Regions from separate parts of the Homo sapiens genome. Here all the other regions are reported to be linked to region 3. The links are microRNA targets in miRTarBase. Many come from high-throughput screens and were not tested one by one. Region 3 holds a microRNA gene; each other region holds the end of a gene's coding sequence.

The links. The annotated mature microRNA hsa-miR-4789-3p reads CACACAUAGCAGGUGUAUAUA and lies in region 3 at 1,041-1,061, shown strand. An mRNA with a match to its seed (bases 2 to 7 or 8) in the 3' UTR can be bound and repressed. Matches are read on the target gene's strand: a 7mer-m8 pairs with bases 2 to 8, a 7mer-A1 pairs with bases 2 to 7 and ends in A, and an 8mer does both.
Region 1: miRTarBase lists TMOD2 as a target of hsa-miR-4789-3p. Seed matches in the 3' UTR shown: 7mer-m8 at 704-710.
Region 2: the mRNA of VAMP4 is a reported target of hsa-miR-4789-3p. Seed matches in the 3' UTR shown: 8mer at 2,756-2,763, 7mer-A1 at 2,240-2,246 and 8mer at 1,800-1,807.

What each region holds. Positions count from the first base shown.
Region 1 is chr15:51,808,100-51,811,287 of GRCh38, forward strand. TMOD2 (tropomodulin 2) reads left to right here. Exons shown (of 10, transcript NM_014548.4): 10 at 321-3,188. The coding sequence ends at 355. Among named protein-coding and RNA genes, the nearest start is that of TMOD3, 20 kb to the right of the region's middle.
Region 2 is chr1:171,701,669-171,704,856 of GRCh38, forward strand. It overlaps VAMP4 (vesicle associated membrane protein 4), which reads right to left. Exons shown (of 8, transcript NM_003762.5): 8 at 1-2,866. The coding sequence ends at 2,838. Among named protein-coding and RNA genes, the nearest start is that of VAMP4, 39 kb to the right of the region's middle.
Region 3 is chr3:175,368,550-175,371,737 of GRCh38, forward strand. MIR4789 (microRNA 4789) reads left to right here and starts at 991; the gene lies at 991-1,072. The region is part of intron 5 of NAALADL2 (N-acetylated alpha-linked acidic dipeptidase like 2); the gene reads left to right.

The DNA.
Region 1 (3,188 bases), not on the chromosome of region 3:
AGTGCCGTGGATAAACGGCCATGAAAATAGTCAAAGTGCACTGTTTCACGGGTCTCTTCTGGAATTTCTATCCCATAGAAATTCGAAGGTTCTAACACTCGAGTACCCAACTATCAGACATATATGTATTTAAATGTAAATTCCACCAGACACTGGATGAATTTATCATTTCCATTGATTGTCATGGTTAAGTATTAAAATTTAAGATAACTGTATCCTCAAGTGTGTGAGATTGTCATCTTATGTGATTAATGTTGTTTATCTGGAATTTAAGGAATATCCCTTCAATTTGTCTTTTTGTTCCTTTCTTTCTTACCTAGTTCGTAAGAAGAGAGTTGAAGCAGACCGAAGGTAAACTTCCTTGAGGAGAAGTGAAGTTTCACTGTGGTATGGCCATTGAAAAACAAAAACTCTTCTTCTTCCCCATCAGGACCATTTTATCAAAGTTCGTTCATTTCCGTTAACCACATAACTAATAATTTAATTGTTATTCTTTTTTAGCACTACTTATTTATCTTGGATTTTGTAATATATGCAATTGTTTTATTTGCTCATGGGCACTTCTGGCAACTTGACAAATGGACCGATGCAGATTTTAGAGAGTGACGACATGGAAAATGAATTTAACCACTTTCTTATTGGGTTGTCTTGCTTTCTTACATGAACTTGTTTTTTTAATCACTGAAAGGAATTTAGTGTATAATATGTGTTTGTAACTGTGATTATGATAGAGGCCTATCTCTGTTTACATGCATAGCTTTGAGTTAGGCTAAATACATCAGAAGTGTTCTACTGACCACATAAGAAGTTAGTATTGCCAATCTTTCACTGCATGTGAAAATGTGACCAATTTAGCACAAATTCTCTCTTAGTTCCAGAAAAATCAGTAAATGCACATGCCCTGTTGATTGGAGATCAGTAGTGTCATCTTCATAAAGCAAGACAACATTATGACACTTTAAAACAGTAGCAAAGAAGTCTATTTATTAACCCACAAATGTAGCATCAAGCCAGACTCACAGGTAGCAAAATGAATTACACACCTACTTTTACTGACTATTCAACATAAATTGAATCTTTAACATGACTTTAAAGGCTATTTACAAAGCTGTTTTAAAGTTTTTCAAACATGATAGAAATTTTCTAAATTTTAGTAAGAGAGAAGCTTTTAAAACAGTACATTCCTGAATAAAACAACAATATTGTATCTTAATCAAGGCTGTCTGATGCAGATGATTGCATTTTTTGGCAAATTTTAGAAGCATTTATTGCTTTGTCTTTAGTGTAACAAGATCACTGGATTAAATATAAACATTCAGGTTAATTATCTAGATTTTTGTCCACAGTATATGATCCATCCAGACATTTGCAAACGTCAGGAGAAAAATGTGAATTATTTATCCAGATGCATGTCATCTCAAGGACAAAGCCTGTGAAAGTACAAGTGAGATGGTTGCATTGTAGTATGCATTAATCTTTCAATGTAGTGGTGTAAAAATGCAGTGCTAAACTAATGAAGCAGGTGACTGCAGCCTTTGGCTCAAGCTCACAACTCTGATAACTGTCAGTGCCTGAGGTTGTGATTGGTGACATTCTGACACTGCCCAAGGCAACTCACCCTCTATTCCTCCTTTCTCCCCTCCCTTTCTTCCAATTCATTGTCTTTTTTTTCCTCTTTTCTCTGTAATTTGTTACTAAACAAATTCCAGAATTTGTTTAGTAGCTGAGTGTTCCTGAGTTGCCTAGTAGCAATAAAACAAGTGAATAGGAAAATAATTAATATATTATTCTATTTAGCTTGTAAAACACATGGAATCTGTTTAAGATAGCCCTTGTAAAATTGAACATTTACCTGTATTGTAAGTACCCACATCTGTGTCTCTGAAGTCCTTTGAAACATCTCATTATCTTGAAATTTTTTTAATGTTTGAGAACACCATAAGCAGAATATTCTAACACCTTTGGCCCCTGAAAATCCTTTAATTAGTTTATGGCTTCATCTCCTTATCTATTTAAAAAACATAGTAAATAATGTTTATGGTTTTCAGTCTGATTTTTCCTTCCCTTTCACCCATTTAGGTGTGATGTGTTGGAGTCAACTTGTACAGGCTTGCCAACTGTTATATTTTCAAGAATTTTGCAAACTGGTTGTTCAATACAGCCATTATTTAAAATTAAATGATGTGCACTTACAACTGAATGAATTATATTAAGGACAGAAGTAACAAATACTGTACTCAAAAATCTTACATTTTACTATTTTCTAACCTCTTAGATTATTTACATCTAGTAGGTATGTATGTAGAAATATTACCAAACAGTATGCTACTGAACGTATCCTCTCAACTCCATGTTCACTACCTTCTTGTTACTACAGTGGCTTGAAATTGGCCATGGTAGAAATATTTACACCACAGAAATTAGCAATATGTAAGAAATTGGGGTTTTCTCCCTCTCCAGATTGCTGGTTGATAAACATTCATCAGCACACCACTGGGTGAAATTATACATTTTTTTATACATATGTTTCGCTTATCATGTTGCCGAAGGGAAGAACATTTCTCTTAGATGTCTTTTCTCCTCTTTGGATTTGTTACAAACCTGTTTAAGTGCTGAGTCCCTGACCTGCCTCTCCAAGTAAGCCTTTTTCCTTTTTTTTTTTTTTTTTCTTACTCTCATTCTTGCCTTGACTCTTAAAATCCTGGACCCTATAGAGCATTCCTTGCAGCCCCACAGTGCTGTGGGCTGGGGGCTAAAGCAGTTCTTGGCAAACTCTGGCAGAAAGCAAGAAAAAAAGAATCAGAATTCAATCATGGCTGTTTCTTTTGTACAAGCAGTTGTTGATAGTATTAAAGCAAGATAATGGGACATTATCAAAAATATAGCACTGTTTTTACCTTATGAAATAGTTGGGTTGCATGCAACAGAGTCTATGAAATCAAATGTTTTTTACTAATCAGTTTGTTTTCTTATTACCTGTGTTTTTAAAGTGGCTTGAAAGGTGGCATTTCCATGAGTGTGCACATATTGATGATAACCCTTAGAAAAACATACACTTGAGGAGCCTATCCATCATTTAATTAGCCTAGGACTTCATCTCCCTCTCTGCCCAAAGTGTGGAAGTGGTAGCTCTTTCATGATCATGGGCACAGTTAATCCTTTGCTATCCATTGTGATGGGGCATAATG
Region 2 (3,188 bases), not on the chromosome of region 3:
ATATCTCATGTCTATTAATTACCCTTCCTCCATCTTATATAATATTCCATCTTCAGTAATGAACTTTTATCTAATTAAGAAATCCCCCAGTTTATAAAATCTGAGGGCAATTTCCAGTGAACTTTGTCAGGATAGAGGAACCAAATGACCACAGGTATTACTGAGTTATAATAAGAAGGAGTAACCAATTAATCAGTATTATAACAACAAAATTGCTGCAAGGCAATAGGCTTCTGTAATTAAACATAAATCACAAAGGTATGGATTCAGGCATCAAAATAGTGACGTGATTTCACTGAGTATCAACTAGTATTTGCAAAGCTACTTGAATTTTTCTGTTGATCTTCACTTGTTGTTAAATAATGATAGTTTTGATGGTGGTAAAACTTCATTTTTCAAGTGCAGGATGATCTGAGCTGAATGAGAAAAAAAGTAATTAAGGGAGGGAATAAAGGTAGGCCTGGCATCAGTTTGAACAATATATTTTTTTCTTCTGTTTTTGATCGTAAGAGGGCTTATATCTCCAAGGTTACCACAATAAAGTCATAACCATGCCAGCCATTTTAAGGATTTCAGGATTAATCAAGACCAAGAAAGATGAAATGATGAATTACAAACCAAGCCATCACTACTACAAAGTTCCATGAGTGATAATTCTGTTACCCATATCCCAGGCAGCAATATGTTTAAATTACAAAGACAGTGACATATATATTGTCAAAAAATTTTACTGTTACTTATTATTTAAATTTAAAAATTTTATAATTTTACATTTTGTAATTATTTATTTAAAAGTGGCATATTTTATTAAAAGGAACACTGGAAATATGGATACTTTTTGAGAAGTAATCTTCATCTTCACTTGTAGATATTATGGAGAAACCAGATTTCTACATCAACTAATGGAAAATTAACCACTTATGAGCCTAGTTCCAATTCAAATAAAGGACATACATACAAATGTTAGGACTGATTCTGTCCATTCAGTTAAAATATTTCCATTCCTGAATTATTAGCTACTGAAATTCTAAAAATGCTCATTTTTCTGGGTATCTTAACTTAAAAGATTTATTAGCTGTTCAGATGCTGTTTATATTAATTGACATTTACAAAGAGCATAGAGACCAAAGACAATATACACTATAGTATGTAAGACCTTTATCTCCTTCTAAATGCTCTAAGCAAACTATAAAATTTAGTAATTCTATTTAGATCTTCTTAGATAACTTGCAGGTGTCTTGAGTGTCTCAGTCTGCTTTCTCTCTTCAAATTTTTTCCATTCTAAACAGCATTTTTTGCCTCCTAGTAATAATCCTGTAGAATTTTAAAAACAGACAAAAAAACACCAAACCCAGATTCTATGCTTTATTCATTTTGCATTAAGATGACCAAAGAAATAAAACCTAAATAAAATAAACATAAAATCATTTTTCCCTATTTAAATACTGATAATTTCTATTAACCCTATTTTTAATTTAGGGAGTTTTATATTCATATTGTCAAGATATCCAGTGCACAAGTTTCTGCAGAATCACTAATTTTATTATAAAGCTTCCTCTCCCCACACCTTAGGGGACAATGTATTTTCACTCTGACTTGTTTAAAAGACACAAGGAGGTTGGCATATTTTAAAGTTAACACATTTTTTCATTATAAAAACAGGCTTAGGTTAATGGTCACTCTCTAGCATTTGGTTACCGACTGACTGATTATCATATGTGTGCGTGTGTGTGTGTGTGTGTGTGTGTGTTTGTGTGTATATATATATATATATATATATATATATATATATATATATATACACATAGGTTCCTGACTTTCTACTACTCATTACTGTTGGCTGATGCAAAATTTGATTGTGCAACATACATCTCCTCAAGGATGAACAGGAAATGCAAAGATATAAAATTCAAAGTATTAATAGATGGTTTTGCTACTTTTTGTACTTTTGGTAAATGAGATAGTTGGAAGTTAGAGGCTATTAACTAAAATAAAATTAAGGAGTAAGTAAGTTACCTGTAAATTTCATTTACTCACATTAGGACTGACTGGTCTCTCTTTATTGGAGTTTAACAGAAAACAGACTGGACCATGACTGGCAGCTATATATTGGTCATTTTCAAATACTCCAATGACACTCTTCAATAACTTTATTATCTCCAGTTTTATGATGCCATACCATGTTTTTTCACACTGTTTAAAAATTTCCATTTCCATAATCCAATGCCAAAAAAATTACTACACATTCTCTTACACAGTCAAAAATATATTTACTGGAATGTTTTTAGTTATACCTGAGGGCAACAACATTTACAACATTTAGCTTTTGTTACACCTATAAATGTGGAAATTGCTTGCAAAACAACTGTAATATGAAAGGAACTATATTTCTGCAAATATTGACAGAATGGTTATGCATCTCTTTCAGCATATAATTTGGTACTCTACACAGGCTTCCTGACCCCCAGCATGACCCGCTCCCTAATGCAATAATGCAAGTCCTTATGCCATTAAAATATTAATATGAAATATTATAATCAGTGTTTATATACACAAATAATGAACTGGCAAGTATCTAGTTTCAAATTAGATCCTTGAAATATGGAAAAATAGAGGCTAGTTCTCTTTGCCTTAAACATAATTATTAAAAGAACATTTTGTTAGAAAGGGAGAAGATAATTGGACATTCTCAACGTTCCAATTTGAAGTGATACTTGCCTCTTAGTTTCTTGAAAAAGAAGTTTTGAAAGTTATATACACATAGGTTTCATTTAAATTATGCAGCAATCTTTTATTACTGTCCCAGATCTTGTTTAATGAAGATCTCTGTCATCAAATCAAGTACGGTATTTCATGACTATAAGAACTGTAAGAGAAAACATGAAAAAAGCAATATATCAACATCAGATATATATGCTATGTTTGAAGCAATATTCCTAAATGTAGTTGTGTCTACTTTTAGAAATGGGTAATGAGGATTGACTGAACTTTTATCTGAGGTAATAAATAATCAATGGGAAAGGAGAAGCAAAAAATATCATAAAACAACCTAAATGTCTAACATTGGCATCTTAAATAAATAATGGCATAGCCATAGCTTGTATCTGCTGTTAAAATATTACTAAAAATTTTGATAACCTGGGATAATAGTCACAATATATTTATTAGAAAGTACATATAATATAGTC
Region 3 (3,188 bases):
AGGACTGTAGCAGGTGTGTGTGAGTGTGTGTGTGTGTGTGTGTGTGTTTATAGCCAGTATGTATATATGTAGCAAATACGTTCATGTGCCATTTAATAATGGAGATGCTTTCTGAGAAATGCATCATTAGGTGACTTCATTGTTGAGAGAACATCATAGAGTGCACATAACACAAACACATTGTGTAGCCTCCTAAACAACTAGGTTATGTCGTATAGCTTATTACTTCTAAGCTACAAACCTGCATAGCATGTTATTGTACTGAACACTGTAGGCAATTACAATGCAGTGGTATTTGTATATCTAAACATATCTAAACACAGAAAAGGTACAGCGAAATATGATATAAAAGATTAAAAAAAATTGCCACCCCTGTATAGGGCACTTTTCATGGAACTTGTGGGAGTAGAAGTTGCTCTGGGTGGATCTGTGAATGAGCAGTGAGCAAATGTGAAGGCCTAAGACGTTACTATGCATTACTGTAGGCTTTATAAACACTGTACACTTAGGTTACACTAAATTTGTTTTAAAAATTAAGTAATTGCACTAATGTCACAATGAGAACAATGCCACTAGAGTTTTTCAGCTCCACTATAATCTATGGAACCACCCTCATGTATGTGATTTGTTCTTGAGCAAAATGTCATCATGCAGCACCTGACTGTATATATATGTAGCAAGTATGTGTGTGCCTGTGTGCGCGTGTGTATATATAAATGTTACATTTACATACACCTGATATGTGCATGTGTAATTATATATGTAACAAGTATGTGTGTGCCTGTGTGCGTGTGTGTACATATACATGTTACATTTACATACACCTGATATGTGCATGTATACATATATAGGTAACAAGTATGTGTGTGCCTGTGTGCGTGTGTGTACATATACATGTTACATTTACATACACCTGATATGTGCATGTATACATATATAGGTAACAAGTATGTGTGTGCCTGTGTGCGTGTGTGTGTATGTGTATATATACATGCTACGTATGTATACACCTGATATGTGTATGTGTAAATACATATCCACACACATAGCAGGTGTATATATAGGTAGCCTGTGTGTGTGTGAGTGCATGTGTGTGTATGTGTAGCAGGGGTTTTGTGTTAGAACCAAGAGCTTGGAACTGGTACAATGAAAATATTTTGCCTGAAAGATATGCTTAGTAAAAGTCCCAAGTTTCACACATTTTTGAGGCTCAAAGTGAAGAACTCAAAGTGAATTATTAGGTAATCATATCTACTTCTTCCTAAACCCTTCATCTGATTGTGTGCTAAAATTTAATACTAACTGATCTTTCCATCTCCATAAAATTCTTTGAGATAACAAAATCCTACATTCCGGTTTCTGAAGGATGGTATTCTGCAAATGTGAAAGTTTCCCTTAACCTCCAAAAAATAATTGGGTTAATCCAGCTACCACAAGTGTGAAATTGAGAAGCTGCTTGCTAAGATTGAATTTAATATTGTCACATGTCATCTGAGAGCTGCTTGTCTGATCATGTTGCCACTGGACAAAGTAAGCCTTACTACAAAGGATAAAAGAATGATTATTTCAATATCCAGTCATAGTTCATCATCAAACTCTGAGTAAAATGGAGAAAAAAAGACGTTTTATCTTATATGACTCTATGCATTTCTCTGGGAAGTCATTTATCTGGTTGCTATCCAGGAGAGCAAAGATAATGGGAAAAATCTTCCACTATTCTCAACTATAATTTTAAATATCAAATTTTAATAAAATAGGTTTTGGTTATTTCTTTTAAAAGCCCTCAATATAAGAAAATGAAATGTTAGAAACTTATTTTATAAAATATATTTGTGAACCATAAAACCCCATATAAAATGGAAATTATTATCACCATTAACTACTGATGCTTCTAATCTTATTCTGTAATGGTTAAAAAATGACTAGAATTTAGAGTTACTGCCAATATATGGGGGGGGGAGGGATTTTATAAAAATAGCTTTATTCATTTGCATGTTAAGCAAGAGTGTGATTACTGATGGCCGTAAGAGTCACTTGCTGCTTTAAGCTCTGCTCTGCTGCTGACTCTACATGTGTAGCTTTGAGAGGTCCTTTAGCCCCTCCAGCTTTCCACATAGGCAGGATGTGGCTATTGTACTTGATGATATGCCAAACATGCTTCTGATTCCAACATTCGATGGTTCTGTGATATTTCTACCTTATTACAAAAGACATTCACTTTAAAAGTATAAACACCGTAGTAACTTTTTTTCTTTCATTGTTTTCAATAAAAGGGTAATGGAAGTAAACTGACAAGTTTAGGAGGCTTTCAGAGCATAAAGGAGAAAGGCTGGCAGCTCTTGAGAACCTCTTTGCTTTCAGCTGAGAGCAAGTAGAGAATGCTTGCTCTCTGGCCCTGAATGTCATAACATTATGTTCAGAATCATTGAAATGTCTGACAACACTGTTGATTAAAAATGAGAATCATTAGGCCATGTCTGCCGTTATAGGATGAAGGGTAGTTTGAACAGTATGGAAAAAAACTATCCCAAAAGGATGATTTGTCTTAGACAATATTACCAAAATTTCAAATTATACTATGTATAGTAATTTGCAGTAATTCACTTTTTTTTTATATTTAGCTTCATCTTAAAAGTTCTCCTTCATTGGTAATGCTTTGAAAAATGCTGGATTTAGAATTATGAAGAGACTATCAACTAATATTATGGATGATATTATTATTATTATTATTTTTTGAGACGGAGTACTCGCTCTTTCGCCCAGGCCGGACTGCAGTGGCGCTATCTCGGCTCACTGCAAGCTCCGCCCCCCGGGTTCTCGCCGTTCTCCTGCCTCAGCCTCCTGAGTAGCTGGGATTACAGGCGCCCGCCACCGCGCCCGGCTAATTTTTTGGATTTTTAGTAGAGATGGGGTTTCACCGTGTTAGTCAAGATATGGATAATATTATTTAGAAACCATTCTGTGTGCTACAAAAGTCCTTTGAGAATGATATGAGCTGGGCACGACGGCTCATGCTTGTAATCCCAGCTCTTTGGGAGGCCAAGGCGGGTGGATCACCTGAGGTCAGGAGATCAAGAGTAGCCTGGCCAAGATGGCGAAATCCCGTCTCTACTAAAAATACAAAAATTAGCTGGGTGTGGTGCAGGGGCCTGTAATCCCAGCTACTCAGGAGGCTGAAGCAGGAGAAT